Linked DNA regions of Homo sapiens: region 2 is linked to region 1. The links come from fine-mapping of genetic effects on gene expression. A gene starts in region 1. The other region holds a variant in brackets. All regions are shown on one strand. Distances are between the middles of the regions.

The links. PIP is the estimated chance that this variant, and not a neighbour inherited with it, causes the effect.
Region 2: its variant is fine-mapped to the expression of AHNAK2 in sigmoid colon (GTEx, PIP 0.96).

What each region holds. Positions count from the first base shown.
Region 1 is chr14:104,971,723-104,983,305 of GRCh38, forward strand. It overlaps AHNAK2 (AHNAK nucleoprotein 2), which reads right to left and starts at 6,652. Exons shown (of 7, transcript NM_138420.4): 1 at 6,461-6,652. The coding sequence starts at 6,515. RefSeq lists an enhancer at 4,030-4,109 and silencers at 4,310-4,529, 6,636-6,795.
Region 2 is chr14:104,431,673-104,443,255 of GRCh38, forward strand. No RefSeq gene overlaps it. Among named protein-coding and RNA genes, the nearest start is that of C14orf180, 140 kb to the right of the region's middle. RefSeq lists enhancers at 358-1,131, 3,316-4,181, 9,357-10,139. The variant C/G (reference allele first, on the strand shown) is at 6,389.

The DNA.
Region 1 (11,583 bases):
TCTTTGCTCTGGGCAGCCAGGAGGCTCCAGCAGGACTCAACCAGCTGTGCTACGTGTAGCCCCCCTGGGATCCCAGTGTGCCAGCCCTGTGCCCATAGCCTGGGTGTGGACGTGCCTCCAACAGGCAGTCTGGAGCAGGCCCACACAGCCGAGGCCCAGCCCAGGCCTTAGGGGCAGCGAGGGGTCAGACCCAGCCTGGGAGGTCAGCGATGGAACGGCTTGCACCTGCACCAGGCCCCAACGGCATGGGAAGAGGTGGGAAGGTGCAGCTGAGAGGGCTGCCCCCGCCACGGGATGCCAGGGTGGCCTGAGGTGGGCACACAGAGAAGGGGTCCTCAAGTAGGCCAGAGGACTTCAAGGGCAGGGAAGGCTCTGTCCCAGCCCCAGGGCAGGGGCACTTGCCGGCAAATGGGGTGGGAGAGGCCTCAGGGGCTCCTCAGGCCTGAAAGGTGGGGACCTGATTCCAGGCCCCTTCTGGGCCTCCCCCCATTGCAATACCCTAAAAAGGCTGACACAAAAACCTAACGGTCACAAAGATAGAAAACGACTCTATTTACACGGAGGCAGGAAAGCTGGCCACGTCTGCTCCAGGGACACTCCCAGACAGCTCTCACCTGGGAACGCTGTTTACTGTTTACCACCTGACACCCACACTCAGCCAGGCAGGGCAGGGCTGGCTGAGTCAGCGCCGTACCCAGAGGCCCAGCCTGCTGGAGTGGGACAGGAAGGAGACGCTGGCACAGAGCGGGGCCGTCATGCCAGACACAGCACTGACCCCCGCAAGAGCCTTTGCTGGGGCCCCCACCCCAGCTACGCCCACCTCACAGCAGCCAGAGGGAGGTGCCCTGCACAGCTGGCCACAGCGCTGGCCACGCAAGCCCTTCCCAGACCCTCGCTGCAGTGCGGCCAGTGTGGTCCGCCAAGCCCTGGAACACATGACGGAGATCTCCTCCTGGTGCACCCTCCCCAACGCGGACAGCCATGGGAACGCACCACACCCTGCCCCAGGCCCTCTCCAGACTCTAAGCACGTGCCACTGGCTCTGCCTGGGGCACCCTCCCAGCTCAGATCCTGGACTTGCTCCCCCGCCAGGCACTCAGAACCGAGCCCTCGGCTCCAGAGCCCCTGGCGGTGGGTGCCCACAGCACGGTGCAGACACACAGCAAGGGATGGGGTCAGGCTGGAGGCCCTGGGCTCTGGCTCAGGGGGCCACTTACTGGGAAGGGTAAGAGCTGGAGAGCCATGCTTCACACCTGCCCCTGTTGCTACCCAGTCCCAAGAGAGGCACACTTGACCACCAGCAGGCGGGTGCTGGGCAGGGCCTTGCTCACCTGCCTCAGTTCCCGGGGGCCCCACCTACCGGACCCCTGGCACCACGTGGTGGGACTCAGTGGTCAGGCAGGTGTCTGATCAGCTGGAGGGACGGCAAGCAGGGGCTCTGCTAAGCCACCACATCACAGACCCTGAGACCTAGGCCATCCGGCATGTCCCGTGATGCGCACTGAACAGCTAGTCCTGGCTCAGAGCTGCTAGGACCCAGGACCAGCTAGGAGTCGCCATGGGAACTCGGCTGCTGGCGGGGGCCAGGGAGGGCTGAGGGCAGCGGATGGTGAATCAGCCGGGAGGAGGCCAAGGCGTGAAGCTCGGCATTCTCAGGGCGTGTGTCACCAAGGAGCCCGCGGTGCTGGCTCACCCAGGAGCCAGGCCTGCCAAGCAGCAGGAGCAGGGCGAGGACCGAAGGCTGTGGCCCTAAACAAAGGGGCCTTAATTCCACCTGGTGGGGGTGAGTCATGGGGCCTCCTGCCCACCCAGGCGCCATCACCTGACAGCCCCTCCAGCCGGCAGGGCTCACACGGACATAGCCCAGTAAGGGTCCCCCAAGTGTCCTGCCCCTGCCACATCCCGGGTACCCCCAGCTGCCCCTGCTTGGCTATACCCTCAGCAGCGTCCAGGCAGGGGTGTGGCTTGAGATCCCTTTCCGGACTCCTGCCTGGAACAGCCTGGGCAATTGCCTAGCCTCCCACCACCGCCACCCCTGCAGGAAGGAGTCCCTCCCAAGAGCTCTGCAGAGAGGAGGCCCCGATGCCACTCCCACCCTCACAAGCACACATTGGGTCAGCAGGTCCGAGTGCGCAGCAGAGCTGGCAGGGCAGGGACCCGCAGCCGGAGGGGAGGGGAGGGCGGTGGCTGCAAAAACCTCTGCCTGGCCTCTGTGGGGTGCGGGGATGGGGGAGTACCGCCTCCCGCCCCAGCCCCTCCCCATCCCCTGCCTCCTGGGCTCAGCTCCATGTTTCCATTTTAGAAAGTGCTTCTGACTATTAAATATTTATCCGAGCAAGGAAGGCCTTGACTCCCGGCCAGCCGATGACTTCCAAAAAAAGAAAAATAAAGGGAAATCTGGAGGCCCAGGCTGAGTGCAGGTGGGGCCTGGTGGAGACACCCTCAAGCTCGCAGCGTGGCTGGGGATCCCGTCACCCTTAGAGCGGGTGGAGGGGAGCAGAGGAGCATGCCCCGTCCTCCTTGTGTGTCCAGTTAAGCCTCCGCTAAGCTCCCTTAGCTAACCTGGCCTCCACATCCCCCACGGAGCAGCTTCCTTCCCACCAAAACTGCCCTAAGACCTATGGGGCTCCCCGGTGCCCTCAGGACAAAGCCCTCCCTCCAGCAGCTGACGCTGCCACCTCTCCATCCTCACCCCACCCCGTCCCAGATGCACTGGGTTGAACAACTTGCAGGTCCCTGACTTCGCCCTCAGCCTCTGCAGGCTCCTGCTGCTTTGCCTCCGCTTCTTTTTCATGACCAGTCCCGGTCTCCATTGGGCCAGTTGTCCTCCAGGGAGCCCTCTCTGGCCCTTCTGTGCCCCCTAAGGCTGCACTGGCCACAAAAATGGGATTCACATTTGTTGACTGAACAATGGGTGGATCCTTCCTCTGCTGAGCTATGACCTCCCAGGTCCCAGGGTTCCCGGGGTGGCTTTGAGACCCAGAAGGATGGGTGAACAGGCCGCCAGACAGACGGGGAAGCACCCCCACAACTCACACCATCCCTGAGCGCAGGGTCCGTCTCTGCCAGCCGGAAGACCAAGCTGGGAGAGTGTGGCATTTTACTCCTGAAGTGGGTGGCAGGGACCCCCAGATGGCCAGTGCCCCCCACTTGCTGGGGCTTGGGGGCCTTTCCTCCCCAGCACCTATACTTCTCCACACCTGGCCAAGCCAGCCCCTAGCTGAGCCTGAAACACAGAGGCCTTCCGCATAGGTGTCACAAGAGGAAGGACACAGAGCGGGCCAGAGTCTAAGGGAGAGCTGGGAGTGGGCCCAGCAACCCAGGGGACTTCCCAGAAGAGGCAGCTCCTAGCCCAGCCCAGGACAGAAGAGCTTGGCCAAATGGAGAGAAGGCAATGAGGGCATTCCTGTTGTAGGCCCAGCCACGACGAGCCCGGATGGGAGTGGGCACTCAGCTTCCTGGGCATGGAGAAGGCCGGGAGGGAGCGGGCTCCTGGGGCATTGGAACTGGAGGCTCTGCGGGCTTGACCCTCCTGTCCACTTCTGAGCCTCACCCCCTTCCCTGAGCTGCACCAGGTGGGCACTGCCTGAGGCTTGGGGCAGGAGCCAGAGGCCAGCAGGCAGCCCAGCCTCCCTCCCTGGTGGTCCAGCTTCTGTTTCCCCACCAGGGAAAGAGCTGGGGTTGTTAGGAACACACTTACAGCATCACTGTCGGTGGCTTCTGAGAGGCCACCTCACTGGAGGGCACTCCAGGATGCCCTCTGCTGCCTCCTCCTCAAGGCCCATTCCTGCCACTAGCGGCTACAGAGGGGCTCCTTTGCCTGCGGTCACCCTGCCTGGTGGGGCAGGGCAGAGCCAGCACCTGTCAGAACAGCATGTCACCGACCAAAGCGTGCGACATTCTGCTCTGGCCCCTAAGAGCCCAGGGAGTCACTGCGTCACTGTCCCCAGCCTCAGTGTCCTTGTCTGCAGAATGGGAATACAGCCCTCCCCCAGTGTAGATGACCCAGTCAGGGAGACACCAGGGTGGTGACAGACCCGCCCGCGCTGTCACTCGGCATCCCTGGCTGCGTGGAGCTAGCAGCACAGGCAGCTGCAATCACTCCTGACCCCGAATGTGAGGTCCTGACCCACATTTGCAGCCTGAGGCCCTGAAGAGGGCACCAGCGAGGCACAGAACAGCGAGACCACCTCCACAGCTGCCTTGCTTTGCACCCTTCTTGGGAAAGGGCCCAGCCATCTCATGACCCCCACCGCAGAGAAGAGACCACCCACACATCTTCGCATGGTATCACCACCTGGGGCCTTCCCAACACGGTGGTGCTTTCTTGGGGGGTCGTGGGAGGTGCTCAGGCCACACCGGGGCAGCAGGTGCAGGGTGGGGGCCGGGGCCGGGGAGGGGTTCCCTGTCTCCCCAGTTATCAGGGGCCCAGCTCTGCCCCTGGGAAAGAGGCAACCTGCCCCTGGAGTAGGCAAGAGTGTGACACCCAGAGCCCACTGGGAGTGAACTGGCTGGTGTTACAGTCGGCAGCGCTGCGTGGGGTGGTCCCAGCATGGCCACCAGGGGGCAGCCTCGGCACAAAAGCCGCCCAGGAGATGGCTCCCTGCTGGGCTGGTGCCTGGTGTGTCGGGCAGAGGGCAGGTTTGGACTGGACAGGAAGACGAGAGCAGGGGAGAGTCCGCCCATCTCCAGCCTGCTGAGAGGAAACTGCAGGTGGAAAAGGCCTGGACCAAATCCAGGCTGGGAAAGGCAGTAGTTGGCAGGGTGCTTGTCAGGAATGCACGTTCCTGGGCCGCAGGGTTGGGGAGGGTCTGGGAACCGGTGTGCTGGACAGAACTCCCAAGGTCTCTGATCTTGCAAGTCTCCTACCAAAGCTCCAGCGAGAGCCACTGACCTTATTCCCTAAGAGCGGATGGTTCCGTAGGCTGGACACAGGGAGGGACTGCCCCAGACGGGCTGGGAACCATGAAGCCAGCACAAGCCTCTGTGGAGGCAGGGGGTGGATGAGATGGTCCTGGACCCTGCAGCTTGGGAGTCTCTGGGTGCCCGTGAGTGAGGAGGAAGCAGAGCAGAAAGGCTGTGCAGGGAAGCTGGGGGCAGGGTAGTGGTCCCATGCCTGGGGGCCCTGCCCTTCTCCCTCTGAGGAGGTCGACCTGCAGCCATGTGGGCAGGGCCAGTCATAGTGAAAGAGGAGGGGGCCAGGGGCCTCCAGCCCACCGGAGCCATCATCCTCCCGCTGCTGTGCCCAAACACCTTGGGCTCCCATCTGCGACACCGTGAAGCAGGTGCTGTAGGGGCCTCCCTGCTCTGGAGCCCCCCAGACAAGCCTCCCACCCTAAGTGCGCACCAGACAGACAGGCCACAGGAGGGGCCTTGGTAGTGCCTGCTGCAGCTGGGGGGCATGCCCAGGCCAGGGGCACCCCTCTCACCTGCAGCATTGTCGGCACCATTAGCATTGACCTGTTTTCCCCAAGGAGTGGGGTCCAGCCTGCACCAGTGCCGGCCAGCCCAACCCCCTGGCCAGTGGCTGCCAATGCCCTGGGTGTGGTCAGCTGCAGCAGCATAGACCCAGCGCCCAAGGGACTGCCCTGCCCCCCTCAGCCCTGCCCTCCAAGATGCTGAGACACCCAGGCCCCGGAACCAGGCCCAGTGCAGGGACAGACACACAAAGAGCAGCAGGTACACATGCCGTAGCCTGCGGCTCAGAGGGAGGCTACTGACCATCCCTGGGGGCATGCCAGTAGGTAGCACCCACTTTCCCTTGCCCAGCACTGCGGGACCCTGTGGCCTGACTTTGACCCCATTCAGGCCCCTCACCAGGCCCCAGACCTCAGGCCTAGCCCTGCCACAGCCTCCACCTAGCCAGCGACCCCACCACACAGCCACACAGTAGACGCAGCCCAGCCCTGCCTGGAAGCCCCGGACCAAAGTGGAGAGCCCAGACTCCTGGACCAGCCTGGCTGCTCTCCCGCAAAGCAGGTGAGAGGGCAAGCCTGGTGCAGGTGCCCCGGGTCCCGGCGGCCCCGGCTTTCACGCCCCTTGCAGACACCAGCCCTGCTCCAGAGTGCGGTAGCACCTCCCAGGAGGCCGCCTCTCGACCAGACAGCGTCCCAGGAGCGGGGCAGGAGCGAGAAGGAGAGACAGACAGGGACCGCGAGTGACAGAGGGAGTGAGCGACAGAGACGAGTCAGCCACCGAGAAACAAAGTGAGCGACAGAGACAGTCTCAGAGGCCGGGAGAGGAGCAGGAACCTACAGCCACGGACAGGTAGAACGCGAGGCATGGGAGAAGAGACTCCAGCGGCCGGGAAGGCCCAGAACCACGCGCGAGTCCCGCAGGCGTCTCCGAGTCCCCCGCCCCCAAGGCCCGCACTGCGCGCCCCTGGACACGCCCCGGCGCGCGCCCTCGCGCGTAGCCCACCCGCCCCAGGGGAGCGGGCTGCAGGCGGGGAGGGGCGCACCGCTGCCGGGGGTTCCGGGCCAGGTGGGCAGCACCATGTGGAAGCAGTCGCACATCGCGGCGGCCAGGCGGTGCGGGCCTGGCGGCCCGTCGCGTCCAGTCGCTGGTCCCGGCTCCGGCGCACGGGGCGGGCGGGCGGGAGCCGCGCTCTGCCCCGCTGCCCTGCGCTGCCGCGGGCGGCCGACCTCGGACTGCGGACACCGCGCGCCAGGCTACCCAGCCGCTCAGCTAGGACCCCGCCCGGCTCCGCCCAGCCCTGCCGGGCCACTGCGGAGCGCGCTCGCGGGCGGTGCCGTCGGCCTCATTCAGCCCATTGGCTGCCGTCGCCGCGGCCCCGCCCCTCCCAGCCAGGCCCCGCCCCACCCCGCGCCCCCGGCCCGCCTGTCGCGTCCGCAGAATTAACTTTGGACTCCCGCCAGGGAGCGACCTCTGGATCCCCGCACCGAGGCTCCTGGACTTGCCGCTGTCTTCACCTCCCATTCCGGGGGAGACAGACACTTTAGTCAGAAGCTGGGGTGGGGGGCAGCCTGCGGGGACAACAGGGGTCGCGGGCACCGCAGGAGGTGATCTGGCAGCATAAGGACAAGATAGAATTCTGCAGGGGCTGGTGGGTGGCAGATACGAGGACGCGGCTGAGAGCGTGCAGCGGGAACAGGGCGCCCCGGGCAGGGCTGCGGGGTGGGCGCCGCGTGCGGGAGCGCCCAGCGCTGGGGGCAGTCCTGGAGCCAGAACCCCGCCCAGAGTCATCCTTTCTGCTGATTCTTGTCAAGAGCCTAGGGCCTAGGACACAGCGGCAACCAGCACCCCACTGGCCCTGCCCCAGGGGCTCCAGGTCTGGCGTAGACACAAGCAAGCCTGTAAGGATGAGGCGTTCTGCAGGGCGGCACTGCCCTGGGGGCGGGGGAACGGAGGTCCTGGAGGGCTCCTGGCAGTGTAAGCTGGGACCTTAGGGGTGAGACATGTGCCAGGCAGTGTAGGAAGCGTTCTGGAGAGAGGGGACAGAGTAGCGTGTGTGCAGAGAATGGGGGCAAAAGGGCTGGGGTTGAAAGTCAGGCCCAGTGGGCGGGGGCAGGGCAGCAAGGAGGCTGAGGGGGCTCCTGTCGGTAGGAGGTGCCACTTAAGGCTCCAAGCAGGGTCTCTGAGCGTGGTGAGAGCTGAGGAAAGACTGCGCAGGTGGCTAGGGGTGTTGGCATGGGGCACAGCTGGAAACAGGAGCAGTGGAACCACGGCCATGGTATGGGAGGGAGTGAAAGGATATGCAGGCAGAGGGGACTTGGTGAGGATCAGAGTGCAGAGGGTGGGAGCCTCCCTGGGATCTAGCTTGGGCACCACACAGAGGCAGCACACCTGGGGGTGTGGACAGGGAGGGCAGGGGCCCAAGGGAGTTCTAAGAGTTTGGTGACGCCTGGCCTGGTGTAGACCCAAACCGGGCATACCCCAGAAGGAGTGGAGTTCTGCAGGGATTGTCGGGGAAGGCAGGGCTGGAAGAGACCCAGGAGAGGACCGCCACCTCCATGAGGAGCTGCCTGGCAATGTCCAGGGGTGTGGGTCAGATGCAGGGACACACACACACACGGACACACATACGGATACACACACACATACATACATACAGAGATAAAGACACAGAGACACACAGACACACACGGACAGAGACACAGACACACAGATACACAGGTACACATACAGACACACACACAGAGGCACACACAGACACACACAGAGACACACAGACACACATGGACAGAGACACAGACACAGAGATACACAGGTACACATAGAGGCACACTCACACACACACAGACACACACACAGAGACACACAGACACATACACATAGAGACACAAACACACATGCTCTGTCATACACACACACACACACACACACACACGGACACCTTTTCCTGGGGTGGGAAGAGGCCAGGCTGTACCGGAAGGGCCAGGCAGACACACACACTCATAGATAAGATCACAAACTCACCAAGACACAGACACAGGCCACCTGAGATATTTGATACACTCAGGCCTGCATGCATGAACACCCACACCAGGATACAGACCCATGCACGTGTATACATACACACAGGGGCACACGCATTCCTGGGCTCATTTGGAGACCACGCACAGCTAGCGGGCCCAGGTGAGCCACCCGGGCACGATGACTCACCCTAGACAGTTCCCGTTAGCCGCGCTGCAGCCACCGGGCAGCCATCCAGCAGCAGGTCAGATGGACGCCAGAGCCACTGCTGGGAAGAGGCCCTGGCAGCCTCCTGCCAGTGAGCCCAGGCATGATGGGCACAACCTTCTCCCTCGTGTGGGGACCTGGCGCAGGTCTTACCCCACCCCCTCGCAGTGTCCTTTTTTCGGGGCTGAGCAGTGTTGCCTGGGGTCCAGAGGCCCTGCACTTACCTCCCTCCCCAGGAGCCCACCCTGCTCTGGTCACCTGGAGTCAGTCACTCCCTGGACACAGGGAGAGAGCCACTAGGGTGCCTGGGTGCATACACCTCTGTGTGTGTCCCTGGATGTGTCTATGCCTCTGCCTGGTCTGCTGGGGTTTCGCCCGCTAGTCCTCTGTGTCTGAGTCTGGCTGCAGGGCCTGGGAACGAGGGGCCGCTCAGGGCACTCACCCACCTTTGTGTCCTCAGCCCCTTTAGGTGTGTGCCCTTGACAAAGTCATGTGGCCTCCTGGGTCCCCATCCAAATGAAGTGGCCCCTCTCCTGATTGTCTGGCGTGATCTGCGCAGGGCTACGGGGACTCCCCTTGGCTTTGCGGGATGGGTGAGGATGGAGCCCTGGGTGGGGAAGCCGAGGTTGCCCCCGACATGTCCCTGTCCCTGGGCTACTACCTGCTGCCCCTGCCTCTGTTTTCCTTCAGCAAGATGAGAGAACCCTCCAGGCCATCTTGGTGGGGGCCGAGTGAGAGCGCAAGTTCAGCGTGGCGTCACGGGAGTGTGGGGACCCCACACTTGGGAGGACTTTGCCCTGGTCCTGCCCCTCAGCCTGGGGTGGCTGAGATCTTCCCCTAGCTGTGTCCACTGGGCCTGTCCTCCCCTGGCTAAGAAATGGTCCCAGAACCAACCACAGCTGCCCAGGTCCAGGAACTTTGCCTCTGCCCTGCACGGGGCTGCCCACTTCCAAGGTGGGCACAGACACACACACGCAGCTGCGCCATGCTCCCCTGTGGCCCCAGAATTCAGGATGGGGTCTGGGCAGGGCCTGCTCCACCCGGAGGCCGTCCCTCCCTTCTCCTGCCCACTCTGAGACAGAGGGCTGGTGTCTCTCTGCAGTGGCCTCTGGCTCTGCGCTGCCCTGAGTGCTGGGGCCACAGTCTGGTTGTGACTGTCGGGGAGCTGGGGACTGCCCCTCCCACCCTCCTTCTGGGGGTCTTCTCCTAGCTTGAGGGTTAAGCTGACAGTGTCATGAGTAAGACACCTTGGGGTGTCTGTCCAGAGAGCTTCCCCACCTCAAGGAACCTGGGGTCCTGAGAGCTCTATCTCACTCCAGATGCCTCTGGGAGGGCCTGCAACTTGGGCAGTGTACCCCCACAAACAGGCAGGCTGCGGCTATGTGCAGTTGAGGACTGGCTCCCCAGGGGCCAGCCAGAATCCCTCCTCCCGCCCACCAGGGCCTCAGCAGCTGAAACAGGGGTCCAGGGTCACAGCTGTGGGAGCAGGGGAGAAGATGAGAGGGGCTGCCAGCCCCCATCCCGGGCCCTGCCCGCCAGCTGAAGCCTGCGCTCCTGTCGTCACGCCCAGCTCCAGTTTCCTCCCCATGTGCCCCTCTGAGGACAGATGCCCAGCTAGGGAGGACCACAGAAGCATGCCTGGGCTCAGGAATTCATGCCCCCACCCACAGCATCGCTGGACACAAGCCCAACTCACAGCCGCCCCTGGCACATACAAGGCCCCACACCTGCTGTAGGTGTCACCCCAGGGAGAGGGCATCGCATGCTCTCTCCTGTGCACACAGCCTCCACCTCTTCCCTGGACCACTGAGATGGGGACACTGGCCCAGCCCACTGGTTGCCCACAGCCTTCCTGAGGCTGGGTGCCGGGGCCTGGGTGAGGAGCCGAGGCTCCCCAGGCCCTGATCATCAGCAGAGCCGCTGCCCTGCCCCCATGGCCTGACTGGCGCTGCTTGCCTCCACCCTCTGCAGGCAGGGATGCCCACAGCATCAATGATTGATTCTTGCTGCGGCAGCTGCAGCAACATAAGCAAAAATAGCTCTGCTGTGGTCCCTGCCCCGCCCCAGCCACAGCCTTGCATCCAGCCCAGCCTCGTGCCCAGATGGAGGGGTGTGAGGTGAGGTGGGAGCATCTAGGACTGTCTCAGCCACTGCCTGCCCCTCCTCAGTCTTTTATACGGAGATGATGGGGGAGGACCCCCTGACCAGGTGGGGGACACTTGTCCACCCAGCCTCCCACTCTTGCCTGACCACACTGACTCCTGACCTCTAACCGCCTCACTCTCCCCCAAAGCTGGGTGCCCGTTTCAGGCCTGGGTATTGTCCCCAGGTCCACTTCCTCTGCACCCACACAGCTGGGATCAGGAAATGTGGCAGTGGTGGGGCATGTCAGGGTGCTGCCATCGTTCCACTCGGATGGGTTTCTTCAACCCATGTCTTCATCGGGCTCTCTGGCTCAGCAGTCCGTGTGGGCTAGCCTGGGATCCGAGCAGCAGCAGGTTCCCATGCTGCCGCCTGCAAGCCCTGGCACTCCTGCTGCCAGAGGTGAGGACAGGCACACGCCCCAACTTGCCCTAGGGACTTGGGGCTGAGGATCCCAGAGGACCAGGATGCCTGGGTGCTTCTGGGGACCCCTCCCCAGCCAGTCCTTGCTCATCAGGTGATGCTGGGAGATCCCAAGATGACTGTGGGGCTCTGTGCATAGGTGGCACTTGCCCCAGAACCCAGGCTGGCCCCTTCCTCCTGAGACTAGGGTAGGGAAGCTTGGCTCCTCTGCAGAAGGGAAGGTGCTCCCCACACAGCCATTGAGCAGGGCTGGGGCTCAGGGTGGACCGAGGTGGCTGGAGAGGTCCTGGGAGGGCCACATGGGCTCCTCGTCCCGACCACACTCCACCTGCCCCCTCCATGCCCCTCGGGAGTCATGGCTAATGTCCCCCACAC
Region 2 (11,583 bases), 540 kb before region 1:
AGGTGCCTAGGGTGAGGGACATGGGGGGTGCCCCGTGCCAGCTTCTGCCTGGGCCAAGGGAAGGGGCAGTGGCAGAGCTCTGACAGCCTCAGGAGTTTGAGATGGGTCCTCCTGCAGCTCCAGAAGCAGGAGGGCTTGGGCAGGGGTGGGGCTGCCTGCCGGGCTGAAGCTCCTGAGGTGGCGGTGGAAGAGCACACTTCACCCTCACAAGTGTCTTGCAGAAATTTCCAGAGACAGTGTCCTGGAACGGTCACCCAGCTCTGCCTGCCCCATGGTGGTGGGATCTGCCTGCCCAACCTTGGCTCATAGCGACATTGGAGGGGCCGGGACAGCCAGACCTCACCTCCTCGAGGAGCTTCCTCCTCCAAGGAGGGGCTCAGGTGAGCATCCGGTCCCCAGAAGGGCCCTGGCCTTCCAGTTTGCACACTAAACTCTCCCTGCTGTCTGTGGGAGGAGCCGGCTCCTGTGGGAGGAGCACAGGCTCCTCTCCCTGCTGTCTGTGGGAGGAGCCGGCACAGCTCTGGAGCTGCCCCCACAGGGCACAGCCTTGACCTGGGCTCAGGGAGGGCCAGGGGTCCCTTCTGGCCACCCCATGTCTCCAGAGGGCCTTGTAGCCCATCCTGGGGTAGGGGCTCAGTCTGGGCATGGTCCTTGCACGCTCCAGTGATGTGGAGGGTGGTCCCTGGGGCAGGCCCCAGCTTGAGGTTGGGCCAGAGTGGGGTGAGGCCTGAGGAAGGGTCTGGGCCACACCAAGCCCGAAAGGAGCGAAGAGAAATGGGTCCCCATGCCACCGAGAGCAACCACTTGCCTGGCCCTCTGCATCTGGCCAGGCTGGCTGGGCCTCCCCATACCTACGGTCCCCATTTTACCTGCACTCTGTGGCAGGGCTGGTGGAGACCAGGGCCTGCCTGGGACCCACAGCAGCCAGCCCACCAGGGCTCTGGCCAGGGTCACCACCCTGGGTTCCACCAGGGTCTGGGACCAGGGACCAGAGAGACCCAGAGCTGGGGACACAACCAAGGAGCCTCGGAGTCTATGAAGCACCAAGGGTCAGCCCTGGGGACATCCTTGGAGATGCCCAACCGGCTCCTGGCCCAGCAGTGGGGAGGCCGATCCTGAAGGGGCCGGAGCCCGTGGAACACACGGACGCAAACAACGCTGCACAGACCCCTTTCCCAGCCTAGGATGTGGCCGCCGGGAGGGTATCTCTGAGGCTGGTGCTCAAGCACCACCCACACCTCCTCATCCCCCTCACCTCACCTCCCCTAATCTGCAAGCTGCGGCCCGAGGCGCACCTGGCTGTCCCAGCCCTCCCAGCAGCACCTGGCGGCTCCCTGAGCTTGTCCACAGCAGCAGTCGTCTTCAGGGTGGCTCTGCACTGGCAGGCCCCGGGTGCCCTTCCCACGGGGGTGGCAGGGAGCCGGCTACTCCAGACGGGCCCCGCACTGTGGACAGGCGCTGATGCTTCGGTTTCCGTGGTTGCCCCGGCCCCGTTGTTTGAGGGCCCCGAGCCTGGCCCACCTGCCCACACCCGTGAGGAGGCCTTCAGGAAGGTGGGGCACAGCAGCGGTGCCCAGTTTGGAGCAAAGCCTGGACTTGGAGCTTGCAGAAGGAGCTCTTAGCCCACACAGAAGGAATCACAACTGGGACCAGAAGCACCTCCTCCATCTTGTGGAGTTGCTGAGGACAGATGGTCAGAAACTGAGTTTGCTGTGGTGGCAAAGTGTCCCTGCCACCCCGGCCCCTCTAGAGAGGGCAGCGCCCGCCCCCTCCAATCACGGCATCCACAGGGCTCCTGGAGCCCCTCCAGCCAGTCGGGCCAGCCATGGGGGCACCCTGTGCCTGCTCCGCTCCGAGGTGACCTCCACCCACAGCTGCTCTGAGGAGCACGGCCGGGGTTCCCCGAGACTTCCCTGGTCCACTTTAGAGCCACGGGGCTAACGGGTTTTGTTTTCAGTGGTATCTCTTCCTCGGTGATGTCCTGTGGGCCAGGTCTCAGCCCAACCCCTCCTTCACAAGCTGGTAGCCACCCTGGAGCCCGCCAGTCCCCAGCTCCCGGATGCTCACGGTGGGCTAGGCACGGTCACCACACCCTGGGCTGCCTGTCACAGAAGTGGCCCCAGCCTTTGAGGATCACGGAGAGACCAGGGTGACAGTCTCTGTCAAGAGCACCTGTGGCACCTGAGGTGGCCCCTGCTACCTCCCTGGAGGGTGAGCTTCAGGCAAGGCCTGAGGGTGTCTAGAGGGACCCTGTGCAGGGCCACCCCGCCTGAGCTCAGGCCCCGTCCTTCCTGCCCTCCAGAGGGGGAACCAGCCACAGAGCCTCGGCCTAGGGCTCACGTGGGCCCGCGCCTGCAGTGAGTGGCTGCCCTCTGCAGACAGAGCGGGCTCAGGCGCCCCGGAGCTGGAGGGGTCTTCTCTGTAAAAGTGACCTCAGGAGGTCCGGGTCCTGCATTCTTTCTGTCCCCAGCCCAGAACCTGATTTCTGAAACAAAGTTTCCTGGGCCTCGGGGAGTGAGGTTGGGGCTACTGGGAGTTCACAGGGCTCATCCCTTCCCCTGGAGTCTACCAGCCTGAGCTTTCCTGCCCCACACTGTCCCCGAGGGGCCTGGGATGCTGACAGAAGTCTCACGGCTGCTAATGTAAGGTCAGGGCTTTAGTGCCCTGTGCCCCTGCTTGTCGCCACCCGCCACCGGCCTCCCCACACCTTTGGAGCAGGTGGGGACCAGCATGGATGGCCCTCTGGACTGGTGTGGGGGGCCCCTGCTTTGGAGGGGCTGCTGGCCAGTGGCAGGGGTTGGATTGGAGCCAGGCGGATCTCACCAACCCCCATCCTTCAACACAACAGAAAGGGGCGGGTGGGAGGTTGGAGCCCCGGCCGTGTTAGCTGCTGTGGTGCCTCCAGCCAACCCTATTCCATCCCCAGGACCACCTGCTCAGGGGTGCCCTGATCCCAGCAACCAAGGACTCCAGAAGGTAGGTATAAGTTCCATGGGCTTTGCAGGGAGGGGCTGAGCAGTCCCACACAGGCACTCATTTGGAACCAAACAGAGGGCTGGGGACTGAACAGAGGCATTCTGACCCCACAGCAATGGGGAGCCATGGCGGGTCCTTGAGCAGAAGGGTAGGCTCTGGAATGTGTTTGAAGTTGATGCTGACAGCAGGTGTGGGGTGGACTGAGGGAAGATGGAGACCAGGGGTTGCCAGGGCAATGCCCAGGAGCAACGTAAGGAGGCCCCCAGGGTGCAAGGGAGGGCCAGGGGCAGGGCAGGAGGTGGGAGTCTTGGCCAGGAACATGCTGTAGGGCTAGGAACTACCCGGAAAAGGGTGAGTCTCAGGGGCTTGGACCCCCTCCCGGAGCAGAGGACTCCAGGGTCCCCAGCTGTGTGCCCTTCACTGTGAGGCAGTGTGAGTGCTGGCCCACTCACGACATGCCCAGACCTGCAGAATGGGAAAGGCCTTCCTGGTAACGGGGCCTCCAAGAGCAGGCAGGTGGCCTGTGAGCGGCATTTCCAAACATCAGACTTCGCAGGGCTGACTTGATGGCTACCAGCAAGCAAGTCCCACCATGGTTCCTGTGGGGCAGTCGGGGTGCTCAGGGAGGTGGGCTCCAGGCAGGGGACCTGGCCCAGCCTCACTGTGACCCCCGGAGGCCCAGCAAGGGGTGACTAGTGGGCACAGTGCCTTGGAGTGGGAGGAGGAGAAACCCTAAAATGAGGCCCACGCCCCACAGCCGAGTGGCTCCCTGGAGCCAGCCCTGGCCCCGTCGTGCCCCAAGAAGGCCTGGCTGGCCAGGGCCTAGGGCTCCTGTGGGGTTGCCAGCACCACAGGGTCAGTACAGGCTGTCATCAGGCAGTCCAGCCACCCTGAGGGCAGGTGCTGGGGAAGGACCCTGTCCCACTCCCTCCATCACCTGTGCTGGGGCCACTGGCAGTCATAGGAGAGCAGAGCAGGCCCAAGGTAGGCGCCAGACATGGCGCCCTTGCAGCCAGCGTGTCCACGCCCATCCTCAAGCCGAGCCTGGTCACCAGCAGTGAGAAGGGAGGGTAGGCCCACGGCCCTGGCTCCCCTAAAGTCCTGTTTCCACGGAACGATGGCCCAGCATCTACTCCTCCCCAGGACCCCCGCTAACTGGGAAGGGTCAGCCCCTGCCCTTTGCACTCTACCCCCAAGACATGCGGCCTCCTTGACCTCTCTATGCTCAAGCAAGTCTTGCCAGAACTAGGAAAATCTGCCCCAAGCTATGATCCCAGCTGGTGCAGATGGTCCCAGGCTGTGGTGGGCCCTGTTCTATTCCTCCCAACAACCCTGCAGTCCATCCCACAAATCGGGACAATGCGCTGGGACAGCTGACATTCCAGAGGTGTCCAGGGACGCACAGTGAATCCGTGTCCACTGGGGAGCGCCCACTAGGAGGGAGGAAGCCCAGGAGAGTGGGCGCTCGCAGGAAGCCCTCTGGCCTGGCCCGGTAGTCCTGGCGGGCTTCCAGGGGGAGGTGGAGCTGAGCCTCCTGCAGATGGGCGGAGCTGAGGGAGGCAGGCCTGGGGCAGTCGGGGTGAAGGCTCCAGGACTGCCAGGGCAGGAAACCACACAGGATGTTATGGAGAAGCAGGACGGCAGCAAGGGTGTACAGCTGGGCCTGGTCACTCTGCCAAGCCCCTAGCCCGGCGGCTGCCTCCCCGCAGTGGCCTGTTTTCTCCGCGGCCATGCCAGGAGACGTGCCGGGGGCTGACCGTAAGCTTCCCCCAGGAACTGCTGACACAAGCTCCTCCCACTGCATGCCTGTGTCTGGCTGGCCAAGCTCTGTCCCAGGACTTCCCTCCCACCAGGGCCCTGTTCCCATTCCCACCACAGGACCAAGGGGCCCTACTTAGCCTCCAGCCTCCCGGGCACCCCCTGGTCCTTACTGCAGCTGCGCTGGTGTCATTCTCCGTCCTGTGGGGTGAGCTCCAGCATGGCCGTGCGTGCTCTGCTGGGCAGTGCCAGGCCCGTCTCCACTGGCCTCAGACACGGCAAGGCTGGACCCCTACCCAGGGTCAGAGCTTAGGTGTGGGAAGGAGGGCGATGGAGCAGATAATGAGTCAATCAGACCTGGAGACGCTGGGGGCTGGTGAAGCACCAGGCAAGGAGTTTGGGGCTGCCCCTGGTACAGGAGCCGTATGGTCCTCACCCCACACCCCAGGGAGTCACCCAGCCAGGGCCAGGGGAGAGGCAGGTGACTGCCGTGTGCGGACTCTGCACTGGCTACTACACTGCCTGTGGGGCTGGAATGGGGGCTCCCAGAAAGGGGCTGGACTCCAGCCCCTGGAGGACAGGGTGTTAGGCAGCCAGCAGTGGGTGAACCCAAGGGCCAGGCCAGCACAGCACGGGGGCAGGGTGAGGGTCCCAGGTTGTGGCTCAGCCTGACGGGCCTTGCTGTGTAAGCTGCTCTCAGAGAGGGAGGTGGCTGGTCTCTTTCTTCCCTTGTGGAGATGCAGCCAGACAGGGGCCAGAGGCCCAATGAATTAATTATGGAGGGAAGGCAGCCCTGCTCTGAGCAGCGGGGCTCTGGATGAGGCGGTGGCTCCAGCTGCTGCAGGGCCCTGAAAGCACACTGCCCACCTCTGCCGGCCCCACCCAGCTGCAGGAGGCCCAGCCCCACCTGCCCTGGAAGCCTTCCAGGACTGTCAGGCAGGGGGATCTCCTGTAAGCGCCCACTCTCCTGGGCCTCTCCCCTCTGACAGGGCACTCCTGGGGCAGGTATCGCAGAGGGGGAGTTCCTGGGCCCTGGCCAGCTGCTCAGTGGGCAGCTGTGGGCCCTTCACTGGCTTCAGGTTCCTCTGAGCTGGTGCCCTCCCGCCTGCCTGTGGGTGGTGACACTGGGCTGGGACACATGAGTCCTCCCCACACTGGCCCCAGGGCACAATCAATACCCAGTGAGCCTTTCATTACCTGGCTGTTAATTATTCAGCGCTCACTGGGAAGGCCACATGCCACATCCGTGCCCTCACCCCGCCCCACCCCATGGGAACACAACAGAAAGTGCCTGGGAGTGGGCAGGGAGGAGACGCTAAGCACACAGTGAGGAGACCACCCCTGGAAGCCCCCAGACCACAGCAGAGAGAAAGAGAGAGACAGAAAGAAGTCTTCCCTGGTGGGTGAGAGCCCAGGCTGTTCTTCCAAGGGCAGGAGGGAGGGAGGCAGGGAAGGAGGAAGGAAGGGGGGCCTGACCACCCAGGCCAGCCCCGGGGGCCAGCTCCACTGGCATCACAGCACTTAATTTGCACACAGCGCAGGAGGTGAGGCCTGCCTGTCTGCTCCCTCCAGGCCCAAGGTCACAGTGAAGGGACGCAGGGGATCCAGGGCAGTTGGATGCCCCGCAGGTGGGGGATGAAGACTTGGCCAAGCC[C/G]CCTCAAGCGCCAAGCTCTTTTACTAGGCAGTGTCTAAAAGCCCCTTGTGAGTGTCCCACCAGCCACATCCATTCTGTATCCTCTAAGAAAGCAAAGCAAAGGAAAGAAAGAGGGGAGGGGAGGGCAGGGGCAGGTCCTGAGGGCTGCAGGCCCCCGGGTCCCAGGTGAGTTTGTGGGTCAGCTCTCAGAGGTGTGAACACAGCCTTGGTGGGGCACCCAGATGCAGACTCTGGCCTCAGACCAGCCCCCACCTTGTTTGCGTCCCCCAAGTCAAGTAGCCGTCCCCCTGGCATGGGCCATCCCATGGCAAAGGGGTTGCAGGGAGGAGGTGTCCCTGTGGCCTGTGTCGGGGGTACACGCCAGCACAGAGGCTGAGCAGCCCAAGCCACCAGCTCCAGATGCTACAGGTGGAGTTTGGATGTCGAAGCCCGAATCCCCAGTACACAGAACGTGATCTTATTTAGAAATAGGGTCACTGCAGATGTGATTAGAAAAATGAGGCCACCCTGCAGCAGGGCAGGCCCCTCATCGGACATGACAGTTGTCCTTATAAAAAGAAGGAATTTGGATACAAACACGTGCACAGGGCAAACACCGAGGGGGTGAGAGCAAGGGTCGGGGTGATGTTTCCACAAGCCGTGGACCCCAGAGACGGCCAGCAACCTCCAGAAACGAGGCAAGAGCTGTGGAACAAGTTCTCCCTCACAGCCCCGGAAGGACCCAGCCCTGTCAATGCCTGGATCCTGGACTTTCTGCCTTCAAAACATTGCGGGAAAAAATCTCTGTTGTTTAAGCCACCCACGATCTGGTACAGGCAAATCTCAGAGATATTGTGGGTTCCATTCCAGACCACTGCAATAAAGTGAGTTTTACAATACGGTGAGTCACATGAATTTTTTGGTTTCCCGGTACATATAAAAGTGACATTTTCACTGTACTGTAGTCTATTCAGTGTGCAATAGCATCGTCTAAAAAACAATGTACTTACCTTAATTAAAATACACTTCATTGCCAAACAATGCTAACGACCATCTGTGCCTTCAGTGAATCATCTTTTGCTGGTGAGGGTCTTGCCTCCATGTTGATGGCTGCTGTCTGATGGAGGTGGTGGGTGCTGAAGGCTGGGGTGGCTGTGGCAATTTCTTAGGACAACAGTGAAGCTGGCCTCATCAATAGACTTTTCCTTTCCTGAAAGATTTTGCTGTAGCGTGCGATTCTGTTGACAGCATTTTATCCACAGTAGTTCTTCTTTCAGCAGTGGAGTCAATTTTCCCAATCCTTGCCACTGCTCCATCAACTAAGTTTTGATGGAATATTCTAAATCCTTTGTTGTCATTTCAACAGTGTTCACTTTCTTTTCTCATCCGTAAAAAGCAACTCTTCATCCATTCGAGTTTCTTCATGAGACTGCAGCAATTCAGTCACATCCTCAGGCTCCACTTCTAATTCTAGTTCTCTTGCTATTTCCACCACATGTGCAGTTCCTGCTTCCCTGAAGTCTTGAACCCTCAAAGTCATCCATGCGAGTTGGAATCCATTTCTTCTAAATTCCTGTCAATGTTGATATCTCAACCTCCTCCCATTCTTCACGGCTTCTAGAATGGAGAATCCTTTCTGAAGATTTTCCATTGACTTTGCCTAGATCCATCAGAGAAATCACTGTCTATGGCAGTTACAGCCTTACAACATGTATTTCTTAAATAGTAAGACTTGAAAGTTGAAATGACTCCCTGATGCGTGGGCGGCCTGATGGATGTCGTGTGAGCAGCCATGAAAACAACGTTCGTCTCCTGCGAGTCTCCAGCAGAGCTCTTGGGTGACCAGGTCATGTCAATGAGCAGTCATATTTTGAAAGGAACCTTTTTTTTTTCTGAGCAGTAGGTATCAACGGTGAGCTTAAAATATTCAGCCAATCGTGCTGTAAACAGATGTGCTGTCATCCAGGCTTTGTTGTTCCATTTTCAGAACACAGACAGTCGACTTTGCGTAATTCTTAAGGGCCCTAGGATTTCAGGAATGGTAAATCAGCACTGGCTTCAACTTAAAGTCACCAGCTGCCTTCACTCCTAACAAGAGAGGCAGCCTGTCCTTTGAAGCTTTGAGGCCAGGCATCGACTTCTCCTCTCTAGCTATGAAAGTCCTAGATGGCATCTTCTTCCAATGGAAGGCTGTGTCTTCCACGTTGAAAATCTGTTGTTTAGTGTAGCCACCTTCGTCGATGATCCAAGCTGGATCTTCTGGATAACTCGCTGCAGCTTCTCCGTCAGCACTTGCCGCTTCACCCTGCACTTTCATGTTCTGGGGACACACATTAAGCCTCACGAACCGACCTCTGCCAGCTTCCAGCTTTTCTTCTGCAGCTTCCTCATCCCTGTCAGCCTTCACAGAACTGAGAATCAGGGCCTCGCTGGGGGTGAGGCTTTGGCTTAAGGGGAGTGTGATGGCTGCTTGGATCTATCCAGACCACTCGAGCTGTCTCCACATCAGCATTTTTAAAATTTTTAAAATTTCCTTATAGAACTTTTCCTTGGCATTCACAACTTGGCCAACCGGCACCAGATGCCCAGCTCCCAGCTTTCGGCCTGCATGGGGTCTCCACCTGCCTTCCTCACAGAGGTGAATCACTTCTAGCTTTTGATTTAAAGTGAGAGATGTGGCATGGTTCATGGTTTCCCCAGTTACACTAGTAACATCGAAGATCACTGACCACAGATCACCATAACATACAGTAATGATGCAAAAGCGTGCGATGTTGTGAGAATTACCAAAGTGTGACACAGAGATGTGACATGAGCAACGTGCTGTTAGAACAACAGCTCTGATTGACTTGTTCAACACAGGGCTGCCACAAACCCTCAATTTGTTAAAAAAAAAGTACAGTATCTGCAACGTGCAATAAAGTGAAGAGGAATAAAACAAGGTGTGCCTACACCTGGGTACGGCAGCCTAGGACACTAATGCCACAGACGTGGGAACTGAATGGTGGGGTTTCGAGTAGTGTTTTCTGGGATTTGTACCACCAACCCATCCCTTTCTGATTATACAAGGCTTCAGTGACAGATGGGGAAACTGAGGCATTGAGATTGGAAGAGATTCACCCACAACACCCACAAATCCATGGTGGGGCTGAGCCAGAGTCCCTAGCTCCCCTACCCCTGCCCATTCCCTATTCCGGGCCCTGTCCTTCCTTCCAGCTGCAACACAAAGGTGGTGTCCACCTTATTGATGGAGGGGCTGAGTCCCAGAGTCACCTGGTGCCTGCACAGAGGGAGACGGAGCTGGACCCCTGCCGGGGGTGGAGGCCCTGGACAACGGGCACAAGTGAGGCTCCAGACAGCATGGGAGACAGCCCAGTGGATGGTGGGTCAGGGAGGCTTCCTGGGGGAGGGTGCTCCAAGGGGCTGGAGGATGGACATGGTTTAGCAAACCTCGCTGGGGCAGAGACAGGAAGGACACGGGTGAGTTGGGAGCTGAGCAGGCAGGCACTGGGCATGGGGCAGCAGCTGGAGACGGAGGGCTCAGGGCTCACTGGCACCAGGATGCCTCAGCTGGAGAGGAACAGCCAGCAGGATGGTAGGCCAGGAGGACAGCAGGACAGCAGTGGCCACACCACGTGGCCCACCGTCTGCTGGATGCCTGGGTGGTACACAGGCTTCCACTCCGCGGTGAATGCCCAAGGCCCTTTTATTCATGTTCGTAATTACAGAATGCAGGGCGCATTATCCACAATTTGCTTCACATGAAAAAGCAGGACCATTTGCTGAAGCCCTTCCCCGTGAAGCTCAGCACGCTGCTATCAATGAACCCGGAATCCTCTCCCGGCTGGCAAATGGAATCTTTTCTGCTCCTGACAAAGAGGAATGTCCTCAAGGTGAATCTTTTCATTCCTGCTCCTTTCAGCCAGCAATTTTGGTGGCTGACAGATTCTTCTGTGAGAAATGGCGATTTGATAAAATGCAAAGTGGATGCTATCGAGCTCACGGGCTTTTCAGAGGAGTTGGGAGCCATGGCCCTGGGCTCCTTTCCGCCCTCCATCCGCCTCCTCTTGCTCCTCCAAGCCCAGCCTGTGCATCCTGGAAAGCCAGGAGCAGGACTCCAGCCCCAGCCGCCACAGCAGGCAGCAGCTGACCACTTCGAAGCTACCCGCCCCGACCCCACGAGGCCACACAGCCTCCCTCACCGGCTGGGCCTGGCTGAGACCCCGGACTTGGAGCAGGAGCAGACCTCAGCCAGTGCCCAGGAACTGCTAGGTGAGGCCTGCACTGGGCAGCAACACCCCCTCACGAGGCACAGGAGCAGGACCTGGGCCTGGGCAGGGCTGGGGGGCAGACACCTCTGTCCACAGCACATACGGCTTCTCCCGGCCACCCCGGGGTCCGTCGGAGAACCTGGGATCACGCAGGGCCCAGAACACGGCCAGCCAAGCCTCCTCCGAGCCCTCCTGGGAGTGCCCCCACCCTTACACCGGGCACGAGGCGACCAGAGTTTCAGGCCAGGGCTATGGAATGCTGTGGAGTCAGGCGAGTCTTGGGAGCAGGGATGAACACAAGCCTTCCAACCATGTGGCTTTGGGCAAGTGATCTCTCAGAACTTCTGTTTTCTCCTCCATAAAACTTGCATGGGTTTATCTGCCGCTCCCAGCCAACCACATGGCCAGCTCTGTGCTCCAGAAGCATCTGAAAACAGCAGTGGGATGAGGGAATGAAAGAGCAAATGAGTGAATGACGGGGAGCAGCCATGGTGAGGGATGAGAGCCTGGCCTGCCCTTCCCCCACTGACCCCAGGACAGGATGGAACTAGCCGTGGAAGGTGGATTTGGGAAGACCCAGCTGTAGGGGCCTGGCAAGGGCTCTTCCGGCAGTATCCGCACGGGTGAGGGAGTGTGGATGGTTGTCATTCAGGAATTACTCAGACTGCAGGGTGAGGGATCACAGGCAGCTCTGGGACCCTTCCACAGAGGTGGTGCCTAATCACTGGGCTGAGGCTGTGATTTGCCTGCCTGCAGGGGAGCCCTGCCTGCTCCGACTTAAGACTCTGCCTCAGCACTAACTTTTAACGAGGGGGTGCCCCAGAGGGCCCCACCCACCCCAGAGTCAGAGGCCCGGCCGCAGCTCTGTCTCAGCACATTACAGGGAACCCAGGAGTTCTGATCCTGATTCCAGGCCAGCCGCCCCAGCACTGTCCCCCACGAGAG